4 linked regions of the Homo sapiens genome follow. The protein of the gene in region 1 purifies or fractionates together with the protein of each later gene. This does not show direct contact. Each region holds a gene or a part of one and is shown in the gene's direction. Other genes may lie near its edges.

Region 1 (7,029 bases):
GGCAGGGATGGCTGAAGAGGGGCAGCCCCTACCTTTAAGGACAATTCTCAGAAGTCTTTTCTTTTTTCTCATATGTATGTATACACACACACACATATATATGTATATACACACACATACATATTTATGTAAAAAAGATTTTTTTTTTTTTTGATATGGAGTCTCGCTCTGTTGCCCAGGCTGGAGTGCAGTGGTGCGTTCTCGGCTCACTGCAAGCTCCGCTTCCTGGGTTCACGCTATTCTGCTGCCTCAGCCTCCCGAGTAGCTGGGGCTACAGGCGCCTGCCACCACACCTGGCTAATTTTTTGTATTTCTAGTAGAGACAGGGTTTCAATGTGTTAGCCAGGATGGTTTCGATCTCCTGACCTGGTGATCCGCCCGCCTCGGCCTCCCAATGTGCTGGGATTACAGGCGTGAGCCACGGCGCCCAGCCCATATTTGTATAAAATTTAATAGAGATAGGGCCTCATTGCATTGGGCCTGGCCGGATGCCGTCCTCCTGCCTTGGCCTTCCAGAGTGCTGGGATTATAGGTGTGAGCTACCACGCCCGGCCCATTACTGTTGTTTTCAGATAGCCCTGATTTAGTCTCTGGTTCTCCCTTTTCTTGCCTATAAATCAGGGAGAACACGTACTTCCTGGGGTGGATGGAAGGGCTAAGCACTTGGGTATGTCAGTGAAGCCAGGAGCCCAGAGCTGCTCAGATCTGCCTGATCTTCTCAAGCCGAGGGGGTCAGAACAGTCACTTTACCAGGTCTAGCTGCTGGGGAGGCTGGGAAATTATGTGACAAACAAAAATGAGGCTCCTCATTCAGGAAGAAGGAGGAGTGATGTTGGGATGGCCTGATTTCTCCTGTGTCCTGGGTGCTCCCTGGGAGACTGGGGAGGTGCTGGCATCGGGTGGCCGCCTCTGACTCTGTGACCCACCCACAGTCATCAGGTAATAAGAGAAGGAGGTGGGACTGGGGCCCACTCACGTTCCCTGTGTCTTCCCCGTGCCTCCCTGTTGGGGTCCACGGGCAGCCTGTCCATGGGTGCTTTGTCCTTTCAGGCTGGCGTGCAGGTGCCCAACCCACACTCCTGCCCCACAGGCACAACAGGCAGGACAGGCCCCATAGGTGGTGTGGAGTCTTGCCCAGTTGCAGGGCAGCCATGTGGGGTTGGGGTGGCCTCCTTATCCCACTGCCAGTGAGGCAATTAGTTCAAATCCCAGTTCTTCCAGGCCACAGTGTGACCCTGAGCAGGGCCGTCCCCTCTGGGCTCAGCTCTCTTTCTTTTGGGAGAAGAGACAGAGGATAAATCATAGGATTGATTATTATAATTGTGAATTATTTCAGACTGTAGCAGGTGTAGTGAAAGCATAACTAACACTGTAGCAGGTGTAGTGAAAGCATAACTAACACTGTTGCAGTTACTGAACAACTTTAAAAAGACATCTCCGACTTTCTATAACATCAACAGACCTTACAGCGAGCTTACTTTGTGCTCAGTCTCTGTTAACTCATTTCACCCTCACAATGGCCCATTACGGATGGGGAAATGGAGGCAGAGAGGCTAAGGAATGTGGCCCAGGAAGTTAAGTGGGAGGGCTGGATGCCAACTGCCTCTACTCCCACCCCAACCAAAGTCCCTTCCTCCCTGCCAGGAGCCATCAGCCCTGTGTGTTCTGCAGTGTTCTGAGCCTCCGGGTGGGGAAAGAGCAATTCTTGATCCTGAGCTTCTGCCACGTGGAGAACTAGGCCCTTCCGGCCTGTTTCCTGGGTTCCTGAGGCACAGAGCCGTGGGCCTGGTTCAGGTCGTGTTGCTCATCACAGGATCAGAACCCAGGCCAGAGAGCCTGGATGCATTTGTAGGGGGCTTCTCTGTGTGCTGGCAGGGAATCCTCCCAAGATCCCCTGCTCCTGGGCATGGGGAAGGTGGGCCCTGCTCACTCACCTGTGGCAGAGCAGGAATGGGCCCTGGAACTGTCCCCAAGTGTCCAACCCTAAGTCCTGAGACAGGGGCTGTGGTTTCAGGGTGCTCTGACAAGAAAGCACCTTTGCTTGGGGCCCAGGAAGGAGGAACCCATTTCTGAGAGGTGTGTCTCACATAGCAGGTGGATAGCAAGCTAGAGCGGGGCTGAGTGAGTATCTGGGGCTGAGGCCCAGAGAGGATCCCATAGGTAGCTCTAGGGCTGGAGCTCTGCAACATTGGGCAAGAGGACCCTGTGCTGGGAGGCAGGGAGCTTGGGCCCCTCAGATGGGCCACGTGCCCTCGTGGGACCCTCATTGTCACCGTGAGCTCTTTCCAAGGGGACGCCACCAGTGGGGGCCTGGGCAGGAGGCAGCTGAGGTGTTTCAGGAAAAGGCTGAAGATCAAGGCTGTGGTGTGAGGACTACCCACTTTAGGGAAGTGAAAGAGGCCAGCCTCACCCCAGACACCCCAGTGTGGTTGGGGAAAGGGGGTGGTCCGTGGTGAGCCTGGTACCTGGGGACTCATCCTGGCCCTGCCTGGCCCTCAGGTGGGATGCTATGGAATATGATGAGAAGCTGGCCCGTTTCCGGCAGGCCCACCTCAACCCCTTCAACAAGCAGTCTGGGCCGAGACAGCATGAGCAGGGCCCTGGGGAGGAGGTCCCGGACGTCACTCCTGAAGGTGGGTGCTGGTGGGAGTCAGGGTGGGAGCTGGGCAGGTCTCTGACTGCTTACGTGGACCCCTCCTTTCTTCCTGCCGCGTCCTGCGCAGCCCTGGCTTTCCCACGGAGCCGGCACCTGCTGGCTGTGTTCTTTTTCCCATCTCTTCTGTGGTCGTGTGGTTTGTTTCTGTGTCCCCACTAGAATTCACATTCCTGAGGGCAAGATTTGTGCCTGACCCATCACTGCTGCATCCTAGGGCCCAGCACATAGTAGGTGCTCAGGGAACACTTGCTGAGTGCGGTCAGCGCTGAGACCTGGTAAGGGAGAGGTTAGCCGAGGGAACGTGCTCTGGGCGTCAGGGTGGCATGAGCTTTAGAAACTGCAGATGAGGTCATCAGGGAGTGCTTGGAGCGGGGCAGCTGCAGAGACGGCCTGGAGTCGACACTGGGGTTCGTGGATTTTGCTGTGTAGCCATGCAGTGGTTTTTCTCTCGCCCCCGTGGTCACGCATGAGGTGTCCACCTTAGAAATGGGATGTCTCTATAATGCTGTCTTGAGGACTTTTGGCACCGAGTGTCATTCCACCTCCTCATTTTGAGTGGCTCTTTCCTGTCTACACAAGGCTGTGGGCTCCTCTGTGAATGCAGACTGGACGGTGTGCAGATCTGAGTGGTGCCCAGCTCTCACGGTGCCTCCTTTCTGTGCGGCTTCCTGAATCCCTTTCCCACTCCTGGCTATCTCAGCTCCTCCCTAGGGGATGGGAGGCAGGAGGTAGCAGCTGACGCTCCACACCTGTCCCCGTCTTCCTCCAGAGGCCCTGCCTGAGCTGCCCCCTGGGGAGCCGGAATTCCGCTGCCCTGAACGCGTGATGGATCTCGGCCTGTCTGAGGACCACTTCTCCCGCCCTGTGGTAAGGTTTTAGATCTCGGAGGGGAGAGGGACTGAGGGAACCCCCAAGGCAGGAAGGGCCAGGGTTTCCTTGTCACTCCCTCCCAGGTGGCAGGGCAGTGTCCTGTGAGCTGGGGTACAGTCTCACTCCATTGTCAGGCTCAGCAGCCCCCACCTCAGCCAGGGCTCCTGGCTTCGAATCTGAGGCCTGCATGACACCACAGACCCCCACCCTCAGAGCCTGAGTGAAGGCAGGTGGAGAGAGCCTGGGATTGGGGTTCATGAACCTGGGGCTGCTTCTGTCCCCTGAGCTCCATGTCTTCATGAAGCAAATGTGCAGAGAATAGATTCCCTCTGGGGTCCTTGAGGTCCTGTACACTTGCCGAGAGTCAGGGTGTGGGAGGCAAGGGGAAGCCCCTTGTCTGCCTCGTACTGACCAGTCGGTATTACAGGGCCACTCTTGTTTGTTCCGTGTTTTGTTCCATGGAAGCCTTGTGTTGAAGAAGAAAAGGGGGAGGATATAATGATTTTTTTAAAAAAGTTTGAGGCCGGGCGCGGTGGCTCACGCCTGTAATCCCAGCACTTTGGGAGGCTGAGGCGGGCGGATCACGAGGTCAGGAGATGGAGACCATCCTGGCTAACACGGTGAAACCCCGTCTCTACTAAAAAATGCAAAAAATCAGCCGGGCGTGGTGGCACATGCCTGTAGTCCCAGCTACTCGGGAGGCTGAGGTAGGAGAATGATGTGAACCTAGGAGGCAGAGTTTGCAGTGAGCCGAGACTGCGCCACTGCACTCCAGCCTGGGTGACAGAGTGAGACTCCGTCTCAAAGAAAAAAAAAGTTTGAAAACCTTTTATTTTTATGCAAACCATCTCCAACTTTTGAGGGAAACATTACGGCAACATTCAAATGTAACTTTGAAAGGATTTGGGCCAGACGTGGTGGCTCACGCCTGTAATCCAGCACTTTGGGAGGCCGAGGCGGGCGGATCGTGAGGTCAGGAGTTCGAGACCAGCCTGACCAACATGCTGAAACCCCGTCTCTACTAAAAATACAAAAAAAAATTTAGCCGGGCATAGTGGAGCGCCCCTGTAGTCCCAGCTACTCAGGAGGCTGAGGCAGGAGAATCGCTTGAACCCGGGAGGTGGAGGTTGCAGTGAGCCGAGATCGTGCCGCTGCACTCCAGCCTGGGCGACAGAGACTCCGTCTGAAAAAAAAAAAAAGAGGGAGAGACTTCATATATTTGTTTCGTATCTTATTTTTTTTCCTTTTTCTTGAGATAAGGTCTCGCTCTGTTGCCCCCGCTGTGAAGTGCAGTGGCGCAATCATGGCTCACTGCAGCCTCGACCTCCTGAGCCCAAGCGATCCTCCCACCTCAGCTTCCTGATTAGCTGAGACTACAGGTGTGCACTACAATGCTCAGATAATTTTTCATTTTTTTTTTATAGACACGGGGTCTCGCTCTGTTGCCCAGGCTAGTCTAAAGCTCCTGAGCTCAAGTGATCCACCCACCTCGGCCTCCCAAAGTGCTAGCATTATAGGTGTGACCCACTGCACTCAGCTTGTTTTGTATATTACAACATTTTGAGCACTTCCTTTGGGCCACAGGCTGAGCTGCAAGGGGGAGGGGAGGGTGCCACCTCCCCTTTGCCTGGGTCTCAGAGCCCAGCAGCCTGGAGGAGGAGGATGGCTCCTGAGGGCGGGGTCCAGGCTCCCCAGCACTGAGACCTGATCCTGTCTTCCCCGGGATCCCCAGAGTGTTCTGAGTCTGGGGCCTTGCTGGGCCGTGAGCCCCCTGGTCGCTATGTGGCGAAAGCAACCAGAAGTGCTGGGGCTGGCTCTCGGCATGTGCTTGGGCTTGGCAGTCAAGCTCGAGGCCACTTACTGTCCTTCATGACAGCAAATGTCCTTTCCCTAGCTTTCCTCCAAGAGGAAGCTCTTCAGAAGGAAGTGAAGTGACATAACAAAAAAGCATCTGGATTTCTCAAAGAAGGAAGTTGTCTTTTGAAAAGCAACTTTCAAACATTAGGTTTTCAGAGGTCTGTGGGCAGGCAGGTCAGGCTAGGAGCACGCAGCACCGGGTGGACCTTGACCGTGCTGCCACCTTTCCTGCCCTGGAGCAAGTCCTCGGTGCCCTCTGGGTTGAGTTTCCTTCTCTGGGTGAGGGGTGTCGGGGTCTGCTCTGGGCCTGTCTCGGCGGATGGGCCTTAACAGGGAGCTCCTGCAGGATGGGCCTTTGACTGCCCCCGCCCCCAACCTGGGCAGGGTCTGTTCCTGGCCTCTGACGTCCAGCAGCTGCGGCAGGCGATCGAGGAGTGCAAGCAGGTGATTCTGGAGCTGCCCGAGCAGTCGGAGAAGCAGAAGGATGCCGTGGTGCGACTCATCCACCTCCGGCTGAAGCTCCAGGAGCTGAAGGTGGGTGTGGGGCCGCCCCGCCGTGGGGCAGCCTGGGGCCGAGGCCAGAACTGTGGAACTAGGAGGACCCTGCCAGCCTCTGGCTCTCTCTCAGGCGGTGGTCTCTCTCTCGGCCTCAGGGGCTGAGGTAGAAGGGCACGAGACAGGCAGGGTGGAAGACGGGCCCTCACCCCACTGCGGGAGGTTTCCCTATTAGCCTAGACCCTCCTGTTGCAAGGAACAGAAACTCAACCCTGAGTAGCTTAAGCCAAAAAGAAAAATGTATTTGCTTGGTGACTGGAAGATCCTCCAGTGTCAGGAATCTTGCTCTCTTCCAACTCGACTTCCTGTGTCTGATCCAGCCTCAGGCAGGCCTTCCCTGTGCGGTGGCAGAGACGGTCCCGGCAACCACATCTTGCTTTCCAGGAGCTGAGCCTCCCTGTGCAGATGACAGCTGCCTTTTCACAGTGGTTATAGCAGGAACCTCAGGCCTGACTTTCATTGGCCAGTCCTGACCGGATGACAGTGGCTGACTGGCCAGTTCTGGGTCATGTGCCCACCCCTGACCCAATGACAGTGGCCGATTGGCTAGTTCTGGGCTGTGTGCCCGCCCACTGACCCAATGACGGTGGCCGATTGGCTAGTTCTGGGCTGTGTGCCCACCCACTGAAGCAAGCGGGTGGGCTAAGTAAGTTCCTCCCTGAGTGAGCCACATGGACAAGGACGGGTGGTGTCTTGAAGGTGACAACAAAAGAAGGTGGTGGGTCCCAGGCCACAGATGTTCCTGATGCAGTCCTTGGGTCTGTGTGTGCTTTGGCCTGGCTGCCCTGTGTCCCCTGTGCTGATTCAGGTATCCCTGGGAATGTAGAAAGTAGAATATTCATGAGGAAACAGGTAAATTGGTGGTAAGAAAAAAAAACCCCAAAACATAGTGGCTTAGAGAAGATGTGTTCGTTTCCTCACGTAAAAATCCCATAGGTGGTCTGGGGCCTCTATGACAGCTAATGGTGTTGGGGAGGGCCTCCTTTTCCATTGCCCTGCACCTAACCGGCAAAAAGCAGGAGGGGCAGAGAGGCCGGGTCGCTCCCGCTCACATGCCCATGGCCCGGTGCAATCCCACACAGCCCCTCGCT
Region 2 (5,769 bases), on another chromosome or scaffold:
TTAATAGCTCAACACCATACATGCATTTATTTTCTGACTATACAGTAGCCGCAACCAAGGCTTGAAAACTTGTTAAAAGGCCAGGGCCCTATTCATGAGACGCCTGACGGTGCCTTTTACCCTTAGAAAAGCAGGTTGACTTTTCCCCCACTCTAGTTAAAGAGAATGTTGCACACAAAAGAAAAAGGGTGGAAAATCTCAAACACTTGGCAACAGGCAAACAAATTTGATCATCTCCTTTCCTCCTCCTCTTGGTAAAATACAGTATTTATATTTTCCAGCCTCAGAGAAGATAGCAGAACATGATCTTTCACAAGAGAATTATAGACCTGCTTATTATAAAACAGATGTGCTCCCATGGCAAAGTGCCTTCTCCCTCCGCCCCCAGCTCCCTGTCACTGTAGCTTACTTTTGCCTTCGCTGTAATTAATGTATCCGTGATTCCAACTGTCAGCGAGGCCATTCCTAGCACACTGCATTTGGAGACCTGAAGTGCAGTGCCATCTCCTCCCCTTGTAACATGTTTGCCCTGCATACAGAATTTCCTCTCCTAGCTCACAGGCACCCAGGGTCATACCTGCCGAGAGTCAAGGGCGAAATTCTGGATCCCCGTTCAAAACATCTTTGTTTTCACCAGTCCCCATTTAGAGGGCCCTGCTAAATACGAGCAGTCCCTGTGAACTCCTAAGGAGGACTTTCCACCCACATCATTTTCTGCTTATTTTCAAAAGGGAAACAAAAAATCGATGTGTTATCACCATCAGCTACCCAGAGCTGGGTCCATGTCCAGCACTCCTGTTTCCTCTCCTTTTCGTACCACCCTGACAGCTTGGTCGGTGCCAGCCACAGGCCTATGACATTCTCTGCCACCACCACCAAAATCTGATAGGACAGAGTGGAGCCAGCTTAGGAGTTGGGTCTGCCATGAAAATTCAAAATTGCTGTTTTCAGCCCAGAATACCTTGGCGCACATGAACGCCCTTACTGTTTTCAACTTTAACAAATTACTTGGTGCACTGTTAGGTAATTGTTCCACTGCTTAGAAACTGTCGAAACAAAAGCAAATCTGTGGATTACCACCTCTTTCAGACCAAACTAATACCTGCTTTTCCTCGTGTTCCATTTTTCATCCCATATTAAATATCTTGCACATAAAACATATGAAAAAATGGCCAATTAATCTCCTGGAGCTGGCAACTGACTCCGGGGAACCGCTTTTTGCTGAAAGGCTCATTCCCTAGTGTATCACTTGAGGAAATCCCTCCTAAAAGTGCCAGAAACTCATGTGTGAGATCGTCCAACCCTGGTGAAATGTTGGCATCTAACCCCGCAGTAAAGAAGCCAGTTCCTAAAATAGACCTCATTTTGCACCGCGGCAGGAAGGCCACAAAGTACTTAAAAAGCCGTCAACTGGAATGGGGGTAGTGTTCTTTCCAGGCCCGCTTTTTCCAAAGTTAAAAGCCTCTTTATATGAAAACCATGTAAACTCTCAGCAGCCCCCTTTGCTTCACTGCCTTTTCTAGGGAGTGCATTAGAGTCATTTTTACGTCTGTAGTGCTAAAGGGTCACCTAGTTAGGAGCTTTAACATCGGATTCGCTGAGAGGGTCATCGGTTTTTGATTCTTCTAGAGTAGGCCTCCACCAAGAAGGGAATACGTCTAATACTTGGGATCTGTGGTTTGCAACACAAGTGGTATCCCTCAGACTCCTGAAAAGGGACTATGCCGTGACTTCCTTCCGGCTGCAGTGAGATCCGAGGTGTTTACACCACCCTAGTTGCCGAATGCAGCCTTTGCTCAGCTAGAGTGTGTCCTCTGACGGAGCCTGGCCTCTGTTTTTGTCTCTGTGTGTTGTGTGTACACACTGAACGTGGACATCGGATAGTTCTTTTCTGTGCCTCCTCAGAGAGGCTTGGCTTCCAAACCTGGGAGTTTGTTCTCTACCCATTGGCTAGAAAAGGCCGTCCATAAATTAGTATATCCAGGTGGGACTAGCACGATGCCACGCACACTGAACATTTTCTGCAGAGGGGCGTTAGCAGTGGAAGTAGAGACACATTCTGGTCCTCCTTTAGAGTCAAGCCAATGCTGTTGCTCGTGTATTTGTGCACAATTATTCATCTCCGTTGATCTGACACACTCTCTTGAAATCACTAGATTATGAAACAGATCTTCACCTCCTGATTCCAATACTGCCTGGTTTCAACACAGGGGTTGTTTTATTTTTTTACTTCTCCTAGTAAATAGAGATGTGTATAATTTTTGCCCATTTTATTTCTTGAGTTGTCTGCACCACTTCTTTTCTTACTCTGAAATAATGTGAAAACGTGAAGTTGGAGCAAGACCTTGAAAGAGCCTCCCTCCTTTGCGTGACCTGAATCGGTAGCGGCACTCTCTGTTTCCCCTGCCTCCGTGTCACTTGTTAGTGATGGGCATTAGGAGCTTCATATGTTGCACACCTTGTATCACTCTTCCGACCCTGAGTCAGGTAGAGCTGTCTGCTCGAGGTCGAATCCAGTGATGGGTGACTAAGCTCTGCTCGGTTAATGTAAACAGACAAGTGTTGATTTCTGTCATGTGGAACGGTGTTTCGACAGTTAAGTCTAGCACCCAGTAGTCTCCTTATTGGTAGACGATTCTAATTTCATTGGATTCAAAAATCTCTGACTCAAGGGTCTTTCCTTAGTGCGTTTTAATGGGTGCATGGCTGAGGGAAAATCCAAGTCATTGTTAAACTCTAGGTAAAAGACAAGAGTATGGGATACCCTCCTAACCATACCGGTAGTTGTCAGTTTTATTTAAAGTGGGTTCCACTTGGCCAGGATTGGTGGCTCACGCCTGTAATCCCAGCCCTTTGGGAGGCCAAGGCAGGCAGATCACTTGAGGTCAGGAGTTTGAGACCAGCCGGGCCAAAAATGGTGAAATCAGGTCTATACTAAAAATAAAAAAATTAGGCTGAACGTAGTGGCTCATGCCTGTAATCCCAACACTTTGAAGGCCGAGGTGGGTGAATCACTTGAGGTCAGGAGTTTGAGGCCAGCCTGGCCAACATGGTGAAACCCCCCTCTTTACTAAAAATACAAAAATTAGCTGAGTGTTTTGGTGGATGCCTATAATCCCAGCTACTTGGGAGACTGAGGCAGGAGAATTGCTTGAACCTGGGAGGCAGAGGTTGCAGTGAGCCGAGATTGCGCCACTGCACTCCAGCCTGGGCGACAGAGCAAGACTCCGTCTCAAAAAAAAAAAAAAAAGTAAGTTCCAAATGATCATGTTTTGTGGCACTGTCTTCGTAAAGTGGCCGCTGGTGTGATGGAAAGCATTGCTAAACTCAAGTGAGACAACTGCTGTTTTGCTTTGGATTTTCCCTGTGAAAAGAGAAGCCACTGCCTGTTCGTCTTGTTAGAAAGACAAGACTTTGAATGAAGTTCCAGACTTTGAATGAAGTTCCAGACTTTGAATGAAGCTGGTTGTTGCCCAGAGTAGAAGATTCAGGCACCTACAGCAACTCACAGCAACTCCTAACTCTTAGGAGGGCTCCCTCCTATTGGCCGTGAAGCTGCAAACCAGCCTCTCTCTTTTCCCTGGATCTTCCTTGCCCCTAGTTCTGAGCCCCAGCCCAGAGGCAGGCCTCATGGCTAATAAACCAGCTAGAGGACAGCTGGGGCCTGTGGCTCCTTCTCCATGTTGGCCTTCCCTTGTGTCTCTTGTCCCTGTAGGAGTGCCTTATAGTACTGTCTCGTGCTTCTAGTCTAGTCTGAACCACTTGAAGCCTGCAGGACCCTTCAACTAAATCTGGATCCCTTTGCTTCTTCCCTGCTGGCTACTCTTCATATAGATGCTCTTGGAGCCTGTGCATTCCATGATGCATGTCAGAACTCTCACCTTGTTCAGCCTGGTGTGCCTTAACCTCAGGAGTAAAGGGAATCATGTCGGAAACACGTCGTTAAAGTAGAATGGTACAAACATTGGCTTCTTAGTGCCATTAGCACTTTTACCAGGAAATGCAAAAGATGCAACCACATAATGTTTTCACTTTGTTTTATGCTGTTCTTCAATCGCTCTTTTTGTTTATTTGTTTGTTTGCTTTCATTAACCAAACTCAGGGGAATGTCATGATGTCACCAAGGCCAATGGGTAGAGAAATAAAAACCAGCCATCCATAATTGAATCTGTAAAGTCAGTGAACTTAGCCTTTTCAGGTTCAAAATTACACAAACACAAGGATTTTCTTATCTTTCACCTTTCAAAGGTTTTCTTTTTATTTTGCCACCTGTTTTCCAAATAAGAAGTGGGAAGCCTCTTAGATAAATTGTGATAAAAATGTCTCTTTGTTTGGCGTGAGCTATCAAATTAGCTTTGTGTGTCCACTGAGCCATCAAATTAGGCTTTGGCTGCTGGAGGCCTAGGTTCTAGCTTTGGTCACCTATCAGAATCTTACTGTTACGCTGGGCATGGTGGCATGTGCCTACAGTCCCAGCTATTTGGGAGGCTGAAGTGGGTAGATTGCTTGAGCCCAGGAGCCTGTGCAATATGGTGAGACCCATCTCAAAAAACAAACAAAAAAAGAAGTAGAATCTTACTGTGAATAGCTACTAGCCTACCCTAGAAGATATATATTTTAAATCTGTTTCTTAGGAATAGTAGCTAAAAGAAGGAATGGCCAAAGGAGGGAAAGTGGTTGGCCGCAGCGGCTCACACCTGTAATCCCAGCTCTTTGGGAGGCTGGGGTGGGAGGATCACTGGAGCCCAGGAGTTCAAGACAAGTCTGGGCAAGATAGCGAGACCCTCATCTCTTTGAAAAATATATATATATACTTTTTTTTTTAAAGGAGAGAAAATGCTTAGGTTGCAAATGGAGAGTATTGAACGTGGTGATGTAAAAAACTTCTGCAAAACTTGTTCTGTAGCTCCTGGGTCAGGTCTATGCCATTTTTTCTTATATCTGCTCACACAGTACAGAAATGACTAAAATTTTGGGTCTGGGCTGTTATATCACTTTGTGTTAAGTTATTTGTAGTAGCTAATGTGCTAACTTATATATGTGTTCTTTCTGTTTTTTGGATTTTACCTTTTGTTTTGGCATAACTTATCTATATTTTTGTTTACATTATTTTAAAAATATCAGTAACTGTAATAATATAAAATTGAAGTTGTATTGTTGACAATACCTCTAGTTTTTAAGGTCATCTGTCACATAATTTAAGTGCACCAGTTCCTAATGTATAAAGTTCTCTCTCTCTCTCTCTCAATAAACAATGCAGAAAATACTTTCCTTTCTCATAACAACTTGATTAAAATACTGCTCTTGAGGGGGTGGTGAAAGCCCAAGGTGAGCCCTATATATTAATTCAAAGTCAAGATTTGAGCTTTATTGAAAATGAGCCACAGCCAGGTGCGGAGCCCAAGGCAGGCAGATCACCTAAAGTCGAGAGTTCGAGACCAGCCTGGCCAACATGGCAAAACCCCCTCTCTACTAAAAATACACAAATTAGCCAGGCATGATGGTGGGCACCTGTAATCCCAGCTACTCAGGGGAGGCTGAGGCAGGGAGAATTGCTTGAACCTTGGAGGCGGAGGCTGCAGTGAGCTGAGATCGTGCCACTGCACTCCAGCCTGGGCGACAGAGCACGACTCTGTCTCAAAAAAAAAAAAAAAAAAAAAAAAGAACCACTTTTAAATTATCTCAAGTATCTTACAGATAGACTTTTAAAACAATTCATCAACCTACAATATTCTCATCAGCCCTTTCCATGCTCATGAAAAATGTAGT
Region 3 (7,029 bases), on another chromosome or scaffold:
CCCATTTTTCTCATGGTTTCTTTTTTATTTAACCTTTTCAACCATCAAAATTTAATTTTGGTCCATAGTCTCAGTGAGATCAATCCTTTTTTTTCATCCTAAACAATCATCCCACTGAACTGGAATTACACGTTAATAGATACAGCCTTTTTCATTGTTGTTGTTAATTCAGACCCATTTTTTCACTTTGTATCTTTTCCATTAATAAATTTGTCTGCCTTCCTGGATGCAATAACTCACTGTTTTTACTGTATTTTATAATATGGATTAATACCTGGAAGTGGTGATTCTCCTTTACTACTATTAATTTTCAATTCCTTTTTTGCCATTGCCAGTGGAATTCTTATTTCAAATAAACTTAATTTAACTGTATTATGTTTTCCTTGACTACTAAAAAAAAACTATTTTTAAAATCATATTAACTTTATAAATTTATCTGACAAAAACTGACACCTTTTTAATTTTTAGTTTTTCTGTCACAGGAAAAATGCTTTTCTCTTTACTTTAAAATTTTTTGTATTAAGTCCTCAGCAAAATCACTTGTCTTCATTAGAGGTCTAGTTTTCTTAGACTGAATCTTTCTTTTTATTTATATTATATTTTTAACAGATTGTTTCTGGATATTTATATTTGTATATTTGTTTATTTTATAAATGATTGTATTTTACAAATGATCATCTTTCTAAACTCTTATAATAGCCTATTTTTTGCAGTACATTCCGTTGGAATTTTTAGACACACAAAGACAGTAATTTAATCATATCTCATTTCTCCACCTGCCTTATTTATTGCTTTGGCCTTACCGTTCTCAGGTATTAAATGAGGGTTCCGAGTGGGCATCTTTCTTTTTTATTCAGTAGGAAGTTCAACATTATGCCTTTTATTAAGTATCTATCAAGCTCTAAGCCACGATTAAGAGTAATTTGCTAGATATTTATGGCTTTTTAAAATCAATTAATTTATTTTTATTGATACATAATAGCTGTACAAACGTTTGCAGTACGTATGATAATTTAATACATTTATATAATCAAATCAGAGTAATTGGGATATCCATCACCTGAAATATTTATCTTTACATTAGAAACAATCGAATTGCTGTCTTCTAGCTATTTTTAAATGTACAAACTATTAATGTTAACTATAGTCACCTCCTTGTCTATCAAACACCAGGTCTTAACGTCTTCTATCTAAGTGAAGAGTGGGCATCTTTCTCTTCATCCTGATCCTAATATAAGTTTCACTGTTGTGATATCATCAAGTCAGATATTGGCTGTGACTTTGAGTCAGATATTCTTTAACATACTAAAGGACACGGGTCCTATTTGACTAATGTTTTAGAAGTTGGTATTGAATGTTATTAAATGTCTCTTGGACATCCATTGGGATGATCATATGTTCATTTTTCAGACATAAATGTGATAAGTTATCTTAATAGATCTCATTTCCTAATATATAATTATCCTTTTGTTCCCAAAATAGGCTCTACTTATTTGTTGTGTATTATTTTTAGAACATATGACTTGCTAATGTAATTTTTAGGCTTTTGAAGCTAATTTTTTCAAGTGTCATAAATTCATTATTGTTTTGAAATTTTGTCCAATTTTGACATCATAGTTATGTTTATAAAATAATAGTTTAATAAGAGAAAATTTCACTGATTTTTTTCTGCTCTAAAAATGATTTGTTAAATGAAACTTTAGAATAATTCTGCCATCACCTCTTTATTATGCACATAGAGATGAGTCATGACACAGATAATCTGGAACTGTTGACAACTTCCCAGATTCTTTACAACTTTAATATGTATTCTTTCACTCTATCAGTTGCAATATGTGTGAACGTTCATCTGATGCACTGAGTCTGAGGAAAATTTTGACCAGTAACCTTTGTCCACTGGAAAAGAGTCTATGTAGAATTAGATGTTAATTGTAAGTAATCACAGAAGTGCAAATTATAAAAAAGAAATTTTTTGTACAAATTAAAAAGCAGGAAAAGGAATAATAGAATCCTCTTTTAATGAGGCATGGAGAAGTCCATTCTCAAAAACATGGCTTAGTAGTATAAGCTGGTTTAAGCTTTCTGAAGGGCATTTTAGCAAGGCATCAAAGAAAAATTTTCCAATGAGGACATCATTTGTCCCAGGAATTCCTCTCATAAGAAAATCACTGATCATGGCTTCAAAGATTTCACCACAATGATGTTTATCAAAACATTATAAGGGTGAAAAATTAGAAAAAACATAAATGTGCCCAAAAGGGGAATGGTTAAATACATTATATTCTAATATATTGTATTAGATATTATATTCTAATATATTGTATTAGATATTATATTCTAATATATTGTATTAGATAGTGTATCATATTAGAAATTAGATATTAGAATTAGAAATTAGAAATTAGATATTAGATATTGTATCATAATATTCTAATATATGCTTTATATATTAGAATGATATATTTAATATATCATTCTAATATATCTAATATATATTAGAATGATATATTTAATACATTAGATATTAGATATATTAGAATAATATAAATAATATATCTAATATATGTTAGATATTAGATATTTTGTATATACTATATTTATATATAATTATATATTATATATTAGATATATTATATTATATTAATATTTAACATATATTATACAAATATATTATTCTAATATATTTAATCAAAGGAATTTGAGACAGCTGTTATAATTAAGGCAGATACATATTAAATGAAATCAATATACTGTATGTCAACAATATATTTGAAGTGGAAAAGCAGACTGCACACCCACCAGTTGGCAGTGATTATTTCTGGACTTGGGGATTAGAGGTAATTTTTTTCTTATCTGTGTTTCCTGCATTTCTACAATGACTCTCTTCCAAGGGAATACAGTCACAAAAGTGGACTGGGATCAACTTTACTTTACAATCTTACTTTCTTACCCCAAGTATAGATAAACTCACAATAAGGCTTGTGTTTTTGATACTCAGACCTGGCTATGCAAATAAATATGGGGATGTATGAATACAACGGGAAGAGTGGCTACAGATTGAAGCCAGAGTTCATGAGGAGGCCTGACAAGCATTTTGATCCATTTACTGAAGGCATCGTAGATGGGATAGTGGCAAACACTTTGTCTGTTAAGGTAGGTATACCCCATCACAAAATTGTTCCTAACAATAGTGTTGAATTTATCTACATTGCATAAAGAAGTGGCTTAGTCATTAAAAATTTAGTAACTAGGAAAGATTCTACTTTCTTCCTACATTTTTTTTCTCTAAAGATCAAATACACATTAAAAGTTTTCGTAAGGGGTCCGTGTGTTCTCATTGTTCAATTCCCATCTATGAATGCACACGGGAAGGGGAACATCACACTCTGGGGACTGTTGTGGGGTGGGGGGAGCGGGGAGGGATAGCATTAGGAGATACACCTAATGCTAAATGACGAGTTAATGGGTGCAGCACACCAGCATGGCACATGTATACATATGTAACTAACCTGCACATTGTGCGCATGTACCCTAAAACTTAAAGTATAATAATAATAATAATAATAATAATAATAATAATAATAATAAAAGTTTTGGTAGGGTCGGGCGCAGTGACTCACGCCTGTAATCCCAGCACTTTGGGAGGCCGAGGCAGGTGGATCACGAGGTCAGGAGATCGAGACCATCCTGGCTAACACGGTGAAACCCCGTCTCTACTAAAAAATACAAAAAAAAACAATTAGCCGGGCGTGGTGGCGGGCGCCTGTAGTGCCAGCTACTCAAGAGGCTGAGACAGGAGAATGGCGTGAACCTGGGAGGTGGAGCTTGCAGAGAGCCCAGATCGCGCCACTGCACTCCAGCCTGGGCGACAGAGCGAGAGAGCGAGACTCTGTCTCAAAAAAAAAAAAAAAAAAAAAAAAAGTTTTCATAGGCCACATGAATAAGATAAAGCGACTGAACTTTATTCTTAATGATAAAAATCTGACTCTAAATCAATAAAATGAGTTGGAGAGACTCATCATAAGCAAACCTCTTTTTTGGTGTAACTAACCTACTATGAAATTTACATGATAATTAGTGGCCCATATTGGAGAGATTTTCCGGTCTTTTTTTCCCCGTTTGGTTCTTAGAAAATTAGAGACAGAACATTCCCTCAATAAATTATCAAATGTTAAACAAAAGCTTTCAAATTACTTTAAATGGTTTTTGAAAATCTTCCAGAGTATTCAGAGATTTTAAAACACATATTAATGATCATTAAATAAAAGAGTTGCTTTATTAAATATATATGTATATATACATGTATGTCATAAATATATAAAAATCATAGATATATACACATACATATGTATATCTGACCCTAAACAATTCTAAATTTTTTTAGTCTTTGAAATTGATTTTATATCAGATATAATTTTTTAGCTACCAGAAAATATTTTTAATACTATGAAAGGAAAATCAATTTTTTAGAATACATTTTACATGGATTCTTCATCGTTAAAGCTTTTCAAAAATATTGTCTGTTTTCTGTTTAACTGAATAACTATAGAACTAAGAAATTTTTTTACTGGACATAAATGTAATTTTTTGATTAACCTTAAACAAAGGCATTTGAAAAACTATGTAAAAAGCTTTCTATAACAGCTTCACTAATTTCTTTCTACCCTAAGCAGTTGAGCACATTTTTACCTTAAAACTTTCGTCACTTTATATCAAGGGTTTAAAGAATAAAATTTCAGTGAAGTGTCTCATAATTATATCTTTTGAAATTACTTCAAGCCACATGTATAAAGAGTTCAAGTTGGCAGAATTAGAGTTTATTTTAGGAAAGTATTTTCAGAAAAGGCTGTTTAATTCCTGTCAGGTGTGATAAAGATAAACTCATAAGCTCCATGTACTGATAGAATGCTACTTTTAGAATCCTTGTCAATTGTTGTTATAGTTCGGTTGAATTAATAATATTTTTGCTTTGCTTGCAGATTCGTCTTGTTTTGAATGTATTTGTTTGCTTATTTCTTTTTTTGTCTTGAAAATCCTACTGTGACAGTAAGCAATTATAAAACAATGACACAGAGGCAGGAAAGTACATTGAGTTGTGAAGGGGAAATAGTTGATCCCCAGACAAGTGTAACCTGCTGCTCCTGTCCAGAATGGAGACGCTGCTCCAGAGCTGTCAGTCTCCCCTGAATGGACAGTTCTCACTGCAGTAGAGTCCTACCTTTGACATTATAGCTAGAGCCAAGATACAGATCATAACTTTCCAATTATGCCTTTGTTTTCATCTTCTGGCATAGATTTTATAATGCCAGAATGGACTTGTGAGCTCACATGATGTTCTACCGTCCTATGTTACTGACGAGAGCATTGTGGTTTTGGTGTCATGAATTTAGTTTAGGACTCTGCTTTGGTCAAACATCTTAAACATACAACATCTTCTGTGCATCTGAATTCCAAGTAGGACTTGCATAACTTAGAAGTTTCAAACATGTTTTGAAATGCTTGCTTATTTCATAGACATAGTTCTCACATAGAACCTCAAGTTAAACAAAGAGATTGTTGCTAGCAGGTCCCATGCACTCAAGCCAAATAGAACATACAGGGGAAATGAGTTGTCCCAGGGCAAATTCAGAGAGCCTTCCTGATGACTTTCTCTCTGAATTACTCAGAATTTCTGACAACATCAGCATATAGCTGACTTTGACTTTACTCAGCCTTTGATAGCTATTCTCATGCCACCATTTTGTCTGATTTCTGGCCCAGCCATAATTCTGTCCCCTTTCACAATCTTGAGCTCAGATTGTGAGCCCAGCCATAATGCTGTCCCCTTTTCACAATCTGGAGCTCAGAAAGTTCTTGACCAGCAGGCAATTTTCTTGTAACCACATAACCCAGATTCACCAGGTTTGCTCTGTCAGCACTTGCTTCCTGCTTTCCCCTTCCTGGTATACAGCAGAAGCACATCTTGTTTGCCTCCGCTAACCTTTATGACAGCTGGTGGATAGTTCAGATTTTGAAAATTTGCATAGAAACAGAGGCAGACATGGAAGACATTTATAAATACGTAATATTAAAAATCTCTTTTAAGTCTATAATATCCATTAGTTCTGTAGCTAGACAAAGATGGTGACACCTTGTGAGATTAGGGGTAATGATAAACTTATCTTGATGGTTTAAAGTGAATACTTGTTCATTTATTCCTCCTACAATACTGTGTCTTATTAATTGACTACTTCTAACCTCACCATTTTCAATATCCTTCTACCAACCTGTGTTTGTCCATTTTCACACTGCTATAAAGAACTACCTGAAACTGAGCAATTTATAAAGAAAAGAGGTTTAATTGACTCACAGTTCTGCATGGCTGAGGAGGCCTCATGAAACTTACAATTATGGTGGAAAGTGAAGGGGAAGCAAAGCACACCTCACATGAAGGGAGAAGAGAGAGAGTGAGGGGGGAACTGCCACACACTTATTAAACCATCAGATCTTGTGAGAACTCACTATCATGAGAACAGCATGAGAGAAACCACTCCCATAATCCAATCACCCTCCCCAAATATGTGAGGATTACAATTCAACATGAGATTTGGGTGAGGACATAGAACCAAACCATATCATAACCCATTAAGTGAAAGGGAAATCATATTTCTACTCTTGCTTCTATTCCATTTTGCTTATAATTCAACATTTGCTGAAGAGCATTTGTGGCTCTTTAAAGTATTCTCTTATGTCTTTGTTATTTGCATATCAAAATTCCTTATGGATTGATTGATTTATTGATTTTCTAGATTATTTCAGGTCAGTTTCTTTCTGATAAGAAAGTTGGGACTTACGTGGAAGTAGATATGTTTGGTTTGCCTGTGGATACAAGGAGGAAGGCATTTAAGACCAAAACATCCCAAGGAAATGCTGTGAATCCTGTCTGGGAAGAAGAACCTATTGTGTTCAAAAAGGTTGGTCACATGTTCTTGATATGAGTTATAACTGCATTTTTCAGGTGTTTTACACTGAGAAAATAATGAAATGGTG
Region 4 (6,966 bases), on another chromosome or scaffold:
TCTCGCCATGTTGGCCAGGCTGGTCTCGAACTCCTGGCCTTAAGTGATCCGCCTGCCTCAGCCTCCCAAAATGCTGGGGATTACAGGTGAGAACCACTGTGCCTGGCCAAGATACAACTTTTTTTTTTCTATTTTTTCTTCTTCTTCTTTCTTTTTCTTTTCAGACGGAGTCTCACTCTGTCTCCCAGGCTGGAGCGCAATGACATGATCTTGGCTCACTGCAACCTCCGCCTCCCAGGTTCAAGAGATTCTTCTGCCCCAGCCTCCCGAGGAGCTGGGACCACAGGCGCGTGCCACCACTGCCAGCTAATTTTTGTATTTTTAATAGAGATGGGGTTTCACCATGTTGGCCAGGTTGTTCTCAAATCCTGACCTCAGGTGATCGCCTGCCTCAGCCTCCCAAAGTGCTGGGATTACAGGTGTGAGCCATCGTACCCAGCCTTTTTTTTTGTAGCAACAAGATCTCACTATGTTACCCAGGCTTGTTTTGACCTCCTGGGCTCAAGTGATCCACCTGCCTCAGCCTTCCAAAGTGCTGGGATTACAGGCATGAGCCACTGCAGCCGGCCCAGATCCAATATTTTATATTTATTTATTTTTTGAGACAGAGTCTCCATCTGTCGCACAGGCTGGAGTGCAGTGGCCCCATCTTGGCTCACTGCAACCTTTGCCTGTCGGGTTCAAGCAATTATCCTGCCTCAGACTCCTGAGTAGTTGAGATTACAGGCACGCGCCACCTCGTCCTGCTAATTTTGTGTTTTTAGTAGAGATGGGGTTTCACCATGTTTGCCAGGCTGGTCTCGAACTTCTGACCTCGTGATCCGCCCGCCTTGGCCTCCCAAAGTGCTGGGATTACAGGTGTGAGCCACCACACCCAGCCAGATCCAATATTTTAAAAGGATAATCAACATAAATGAATTTAGGTTTTTTGTTTGTTTGTTTGAGTTGGAGTCTTTCTCTGTCACCAGGCTGGAGTGCTATGGCGCGATCTTGGCTCACTGCAACCTCCGACTCCCTGGTTCAAGAGATTCTCCTGCCTCAGCCTCTCAAGTAGCTGGGATTACAGGCACGTGCCACCACGCCCAGATAATTTTTGTATTTTTAGTAGAGACAGGGTTTTCACTATGTTGGCCAGGATGGTCTCGAACTCCTGACCTTGTGATCCGCCTGCCTCGGCCTCCCAAAGTGCTAGTATTACAGGTCTGAGCCACCGCGCCTAGCCGAGTTTAGGTTTATTTGAGGAATGCAAGATAGTATTACATGATAATCTAACGATGTAATTTATTCATTAGCACAACAAAGGAAGGATAAAATAATGTAATTATCTTGGTTTGGAGAAAGCTGTAAAAAACATTCAAATCTATTCATGATCAAAACTCTTAGCAAATCAGGACAGAGAACTTCCTTAAACTGTCAGAGTATCTATAGAAACTTTTCAGCCCACATCATACTTAGAAAAGTGAAATAGTAGCCGGGCATATTGGCTCACGCCTGTAATCCCAATATTTTGGGAGGCCGAAGTGGGCAGATCGCTTGAGCTCAGGAGACCAGCCTGGGCAAGATGGTGAAACCCCTTCTGTACAAAAAATACAAAAATTAGCCGGGTGCAGTGGCCTATGCCTGTAATTGCAGCTACTTGGGAGGCTGAGGTGGGAGGATCGCTTCAGCCCAAGAGGTTGAAGCTTCAGTGAGCCGGGAGATTGCACCACTGCACTCCAGCCAGGGCAAAGAGAGTGAGACAGTCTCAAAATAAATAAACAAAACTAAATATAATACATGTGAAAATACAAAGAGCTCAGAAGAGATAAGAGCATCTAACCTTTATTTCTTGAAAAAATTTCAAACCTACAAGAATGCTCAGAGAGTACTGCAAAAGAACACCTATAATCTTCACCTAGATTCAATTAACATTTTGTCACTTTTTAAAATTTTGAGACAGGGTCTCCCTCTGTCTCTGGCTGCAGTGCAGTGCTCCAATCATGGTTCACCGCAGCCTCTAATTCCTGCGCTGAAGCGATCCTCTCACCCTAGCCTCTGGTTAGGACTACAGATGTGGGCTGCCTAGCTAATTTTTTGAAAAATTCTTTTATAGAGAGGATAGGGGGAGGGGGAGTCTCACTACATTGTCCAGTCTACCCTCACATTCTCGAATTTCTGGACTCAAGCGATCTTCCTGCCTCAGCCTCACCAAAACGTGGGAATACAGGCGTGAGCCTCTGCGCCCAACCAATATTTGCCTTATCTCTTTTTTTTTTTTTTTTTTTTTGAGATGGAGTCTGGCTCTGTTGCCCAAGGTGGAGTGCAGTGGCGCGATCTCGGCTCACCGCAAGCTCCGCCTCCCGGGTTCACGCCATTGTCCTGCCTCCGCCTCCCAAGTAGCTGGGACTACAGGTCGCGCCCGTCACCACGCCCGGCTAATTGTTAGTATTTTTAGTAGAGACGGGGTTTCACCGTGTTAGCCAGGATGGTCTCGATCTCCTGACCTCGTGATCCACCCGCCTCGGCCTCCCAAAGTGCTGGGATTACAGGCTTGAACCGCGGCGCCCGGCCTTTTTTATTTTTATTTTTATTTTTTTATTTTTTATTTTTTAGAGAGGAGTTTTGCTCTTGTTTCCCAGGCTGGAGTGCAGTGGCGTGATATCGGCTCACTGCAACTTCCACCTCCCAGGTTCAAATGATTCCCTGACTCAGCCTCCTGAGCAGCTGGGAGTACAAGGGCCCGCCACCACGCCCGGCTACATGTTTTGTATTTTTAGTAGAGACCGGGGTTTCATCATGTTAGCCAGGCTGGTCTCAACCTCCTGACCTCAGTTGATCCTCCTGCCTCGGCCTCCCAAAGTGTTGGGATTACAGGCGTAAACTACCGCACCCGGCCCTTGCCTTGTTTCTAAATACACACAAGAATGTTAATCATAGCACCTAATAGCCCAAAAATTGGAAACAATCCCAAAAGCTATTATCAGCAGTATATATATATATATATATATATATATTTTTTTTTTTTTTTTTTTTGAGACAGAGTCTCGCTCTGTCGCCCAGGATGGAGTGCATTGGCGTGATCTCGGCTCACTGCAAGCTCCGCCTCCCGGGTTCACGCCATTCGCCTGCCTCAGCCTCCCGAGTAGCTGGGACTACAGGCGCCCGCCACCACGCCCAGCTAATTTTTTTTTGTATTTTTAGTAGAGATGGGGTTTCACCGTGTTAGCCAGGATGGTCTCGATCTCTTGACCTCGTGATCTGCCCGCCTCAGCCTCCCAAAGTGCTGGGATTACAGGCGTGAACCACCGCGCCCAGCCTATTCTTTCTTTAGAATAGATCAGTGGTGGCGTATTCATACAATGGACTATTCCGCAGTGATGAAAATGAATTATAGATATTTGCAAAAATATGAATTACATAAACCATATTGAGCAAAAGACGCCAACAGATACATACTCTCTTTACATAAGGTGTTAGATACACAGAGATAGATAAATACGTGTAAATGATAGAGATATGATAGCTAAGCCAGTCCACAGGTTATTAGTCGTGGTCCACGTGACTTCTGAAGAGATGAAGGGGCATGGGAGGCTTTAGGGGAGCTTCCGCTTTTCTGGCAAGGTTTTCTTTTTGCCCGGGGAGCTATCAGCCAGCGGAGAGATCTGTGAGAAGGGATAAGACCTCAAGACAAGTAGGAAGCAGAGCCTTCCACGGCCCGCGCCCTGGCGGCCCCAAGTCAGCGGCGGAGACGGCGCCCACCCCGCTCCAACGTGGAGCAGGAGCAACGGCGTGGCCCGTGGAGCCCCGCCCCTCACAGGCAACCACAGAGAAGCCGGACTGGGCCACGTCTAGGAAGAGGTAGGAAGGGATCGGCGCATCGTTTCTCCAATGGGAAAGGATGTGTTTGCGGGCCAATAAGTAGCCGAGAATAACACCCGCCCACGCGCCTGCCAAGCCAATCGGCTAGGAGCAGCGAGCGGCGCGGCTGAGGCGCGGCGGCCCCGTGGAGCAGCGCAGTATGGCGGGCGGGGCCCGGGAGGTGCTCACACTGCAGTTGGGACATTTTGCCGGTTTCGTGGGCGCGCACTGGTGGAACCAGCAGGTGAGGTCAGCCGGCAGCTGCCCCCGAGGAGCCCTTCGGGATCTACAGTCCCGACGTTCAGCCGGCCTGCCTCGTCCTCTCTGCTTCCCCAGGATGCTGCGCTGGGCCGAGCGACCGATTCCAAGGAGCCCCCGGGAGAGCTGTGCCCCGACGTCCTGTATCGTACGGGCCGGACGCTGCACGGCCAGGAGACCTACACGCCGCGACTCATCCTCATGGATCTGAAGGGTGAGGTGGTGGCAGAGTTAGCCGATGCCCCTTATTTCCCTTCCGCGTGCCTAGTCCTTGCGCTGCCGTTATCTTCAAGACCCTCCCACCTTACCGAGCTCCAGGACCGGAGATGAGGAGCTGAGCACAACATGCCAACACTCGAGGGGCCCACGACAGTTGCTCAAGAGCCATTTCGGGAATAGGCTGCTAGGCCCTGGAGACAGTGAGGACTTGAACTGCAGCACTCCTGTCAGACCCCTGGATGTGGTTCCCCCCGCGTCCCACAGCTAATGACTAAGCTGGGAACCGAAAGATGGAATCTAGATTCTCCTAAGCCAAGGTTTTTCCCCCAACTAGTGTATATCCCAGAAAGCTTGGAAGAGCCAAGTGCTGGAGAGATGGTGACAGCAGGTTGTCAGGTGATCAGAGGAAGGTTAGCTAGAGGGGAAGGGTGCCCAGGCTTTGACCTAACATTGTCTCTGTTATTTCTGTACAGGTAGTTTGAGCTCCCTAAAAGAGGAAGGTGGACTCTACAGGGACAAACAGTTGGATGCTGCAATAGCATGGTGTGTAACTGATGTATGGATAAGGGTGGGGATCGTGTATGTACGCAGAACGCTGGATAACTCTGATCAGAGTGCAGTTTCTTTGATCAATCTCCAAACTCTTTCAGGCAGGGGAAGCTCACCACACACAAAGAGGAACTCTATCCCAAGAACCCTTATCTCCAAGACTTTCTGAGTGCAGAGGTGAGGGCCTCTGTCCTGAACTTTTTAACCCGGTGCCACAACCCGAGGGTCTCCATAGGGGCAGGTAAACGGGGATTTTAATCATTTTAAGTGTCTTAGAATGATATTTTGGGAAAAAGCACTCCTTTTCCTAAGGACTGCGACTCGGTGAACAGAAAGGAGGCTATGCGGTGTGGCCAGCCAACTCAAGGAGGACGAAGCAACCTTTGCCTCTAAACTGCCTGGAACTAAATGTCGATTTTTCTGACCCCTCCCAGGGAGTGCTGAGTAGTGATGGTGTCTGGAGGGTCAAATCCATTCCCAATGGCAAAGGTGAGACTTCTCCAGATACTGATGGATGGGGGCTTGGGTAGAGCAGAAACATGGAGAAAGGTACATTTCCTCTGCTTGTCTTCAGGTTCCTCACCACTCCCCACCGCTACAACTCCAAAACCACTTATCCCTACAGAGGCCAGCATCAGGGTCTGGTCAGACTTCCTCAGAGTCCATCTCCATCCCCGGAGCATCTGTATGATTCAGAAGTACAACCACGATGGGTATGGGGACCCCAGAGGCTTTGAGGCAAGAAACATGGGTCCCCACCAATGCAGGATGAGGCTCTTGAGGCCATCTTCCCTGCCCTTCCCCAGGACAAGAGGCTGAGGAGTTGAGGGAAGAGATGTAAGTCTTGGATCATGTTTACTTGTGGCAGGGAAGCAGGTCGGCTGGAGGCTTTTGGCCAAGGGGAAAGTGTCCTAAAGGAACCCAAGTACCAGGAAGAGCTGGAGGACAGGCTGCATTTCTACGTGGAGGAATGTGACTACTTGCAGGTAGTGGCGTGGCAATGTGCACTCCAGGGTGGAAGCTCTTCTCATCCTGCTAACTATCTTTTGTCACTCACCCCCGTCCAGGGCTTCCAGATCCTGTGTGACCTGCACGATGGCTTCTCTGGGGTAGGCGCGAAGGCGGCAGAGCTGCTACAAGATGAATATTCAGGGCGGGGAATAATAACCTGGGGCCTGCTACCTGGTCCCTACCATCGTGGGGTGAGTGGAACTTAGAGAAGTAAACAGTCACACAGTGGGGAGGGAGAAATCAGAATCCCAGTGGGAGAGCTGCTTAATACAAACTACTCTTTCTTCACCAGGAGGCCCAGAGAAACATCTATCGTCTATTAAACACAGCTTTTGGTCTCGTGCACCTGACTGCTCACAGCTCTCTTGTCTGCCCCTTGTCCTTGGGTGGGAGCCTGGGCCTGCGACCCGAGCCACCTGTCAGCTTCCCTTACCTGCATTATGATGTAAGTCTCGGTGCTCTTGTTCTGACTGCGGCAGGCTACAGGGCCTCCTCATGCTCCCAGTCAGCCGCTGTCTGTTACTGGCTCTGTTCTTGAGGCCCGAGCTTGAACTCAGCTGTGATGTGGCCTCTCAGATCACACTGTCCTATGCTTGTCCAGCCTGGGGTCAAACATACCCCTGATTCGTCCCCTGGGTCTCTCTGGTGTTAATATTCTGCCTCCACACATTCTTTTCCAGGCCTGAGGCCAAGTGCCCATCTTGGTGTCTTCTTACAGGCCACTCTGCCCTTCCACTGCAGTGCCATCCTGGCTACAGCCCTGGACACAGTCACTGTTCCTTATCGCCTGTGTTCCTCTCCAGTTTCCATGGTTCATCTGGCTGACATGCTGAGCTTCTGTGGGAAAAAGGTATGAAGCTTTGTAAGGGGTTGGGTCAGTGCTGAGAAAATGTCCTATAACGTGTTCTCTTCCATCTCTTTAGGTGGTGACAGCAGGAGCAATCATCCCTTTCCCCTTGGCTCCAGGCCAGTCCCTTCCTGATTCCCTGATGCAGTTTGGAGGAGCCACCCCATGGACCCCACTGTCTGCATGTGGGGAGCCTTCTGGAACACGTTGCTTTGCCCAGTCAGTGGTGCTGAGGGGTATAGACA

The links.
Region 2: the proteins of DEF8 (region 1) and PLEKHM3 purify together in Homo sapiens (affinity purification with mass spectrometry; 2 studies listed by BioGRID and IntAct, with this or other methods). This does not show direct contact.
Region 3: the proteins of DEF8 (region 1) and PLCB1 purify together in Homo sapiens (affinity purification with mass spectrometry; 2 studies listed by BioGRID and IntAct, with this or other methods). This does not show direct contact.
Region 4: the proteins of DEF8 (region 1) and MSTO1 purify together in Homo sapiens (affinity purification with mass spectrometry; 2 studies listed by BioGRID and IntAct, with this or other methods). This does not show direct contact.

What each region holds. Positions count from the first base shown.
Region 1 is NC_000016.10:89,951,744-89,958,772, forward strand, and holds part of DEF8 (differentially expressed in FDCP 8 homolog), read left to right. Parts: exon of another isoform or gene 1-939; intron 940-1,633; exon of another isoform or gene 1,634-1,777; intron 1,778-2,499; coding exon of another isoform or gene 2,500-2,509; coding exon 2,510-2,633; intron 2,634-3,425; coding exon 3,426-3,523; intron 3,524-5,767; coding exon 5,768-5,917; intron 5,918-7,029. UniProt on the Homo sapiens protein: Positively regulates lysosome peripheral distribution and ruffled border formation in osteoclasts. Involved in bone resorption.
Region 2 is NC_000002.12:207,820,785-207,826,553, reverse strand, and holds the end of PLEKHM3 (pleckstrin homology domain-containing family M member 3), read left to right. Parts: 3' UTR 1-5,266; downstream 5,267-5,769. UniProt on the Homo sapiens protein: Involved in skeletal muscle differentiation. May act as a scaffold protein for AKT1 during muscle differentiation.
Region 3 is NC_000020.11:8,730,240-8,737,268, forward strand, and holds part of PLCB1 (1-phosphatidylinositol 4,5-bisphosphate phosphodiesterase beta-1), read left to right. Parts: intron 1-2,998; coding exon 2,999-3,153; intron 3,154-6,788; coding exon 6,789-6,953; intron 6,954-7,029.
Region 4 is NC_000001.11:155,606,252-155,613,217, forward strand, and holds the start of MSTO1 (protein misato homolog 1), read left to right. Parts: upstream 1-3,966; 5' UTR 3,967-3,997; coding exon 3,998-4,081; exon of another isoform or gene 4,082-4,173; coding exon 4,174-4,309; exon of another isoform or gene 4,310-4,787; coding exon 4,788-4,857; intron 4,858-4,964; coding exon 4,965-5,040; exon of another isoform or gene 5,041-5,104; intron 5,105-5,159; exon of another isoform or gene 5,160-5,175; coding exon of another isoform or gene 5,176-5,297; coding exon 5,298-5,352; intron 5,353-5,437; coding exon 5,438-5,576; coding exon of another isoform or gene 5,577-5,601; intron 5,602-5,669; exon of another isoform or gene 5,670-5,714; coding exon of another isoform or gene 5,715-5,731; coding exon 5,732-5,849; intron 5,850-5,930; coding exon 5,931-6,065; intron 6,066-6,166; coding exon 6,167-6,319; exon of another isoform or gene 6,320-6,383; intron 6,384-6,554; exon of another isoform or gene 6,555-6,592; coding exon 6,593-6,724; intron 6,725-6,797; coding exon 6,798-6,966. UniProt on the Homo sapiens protein: Involved in the regulation of mitochondrial distribution and morphology. Required for mitochondrial fusion and mitochondrial network formation.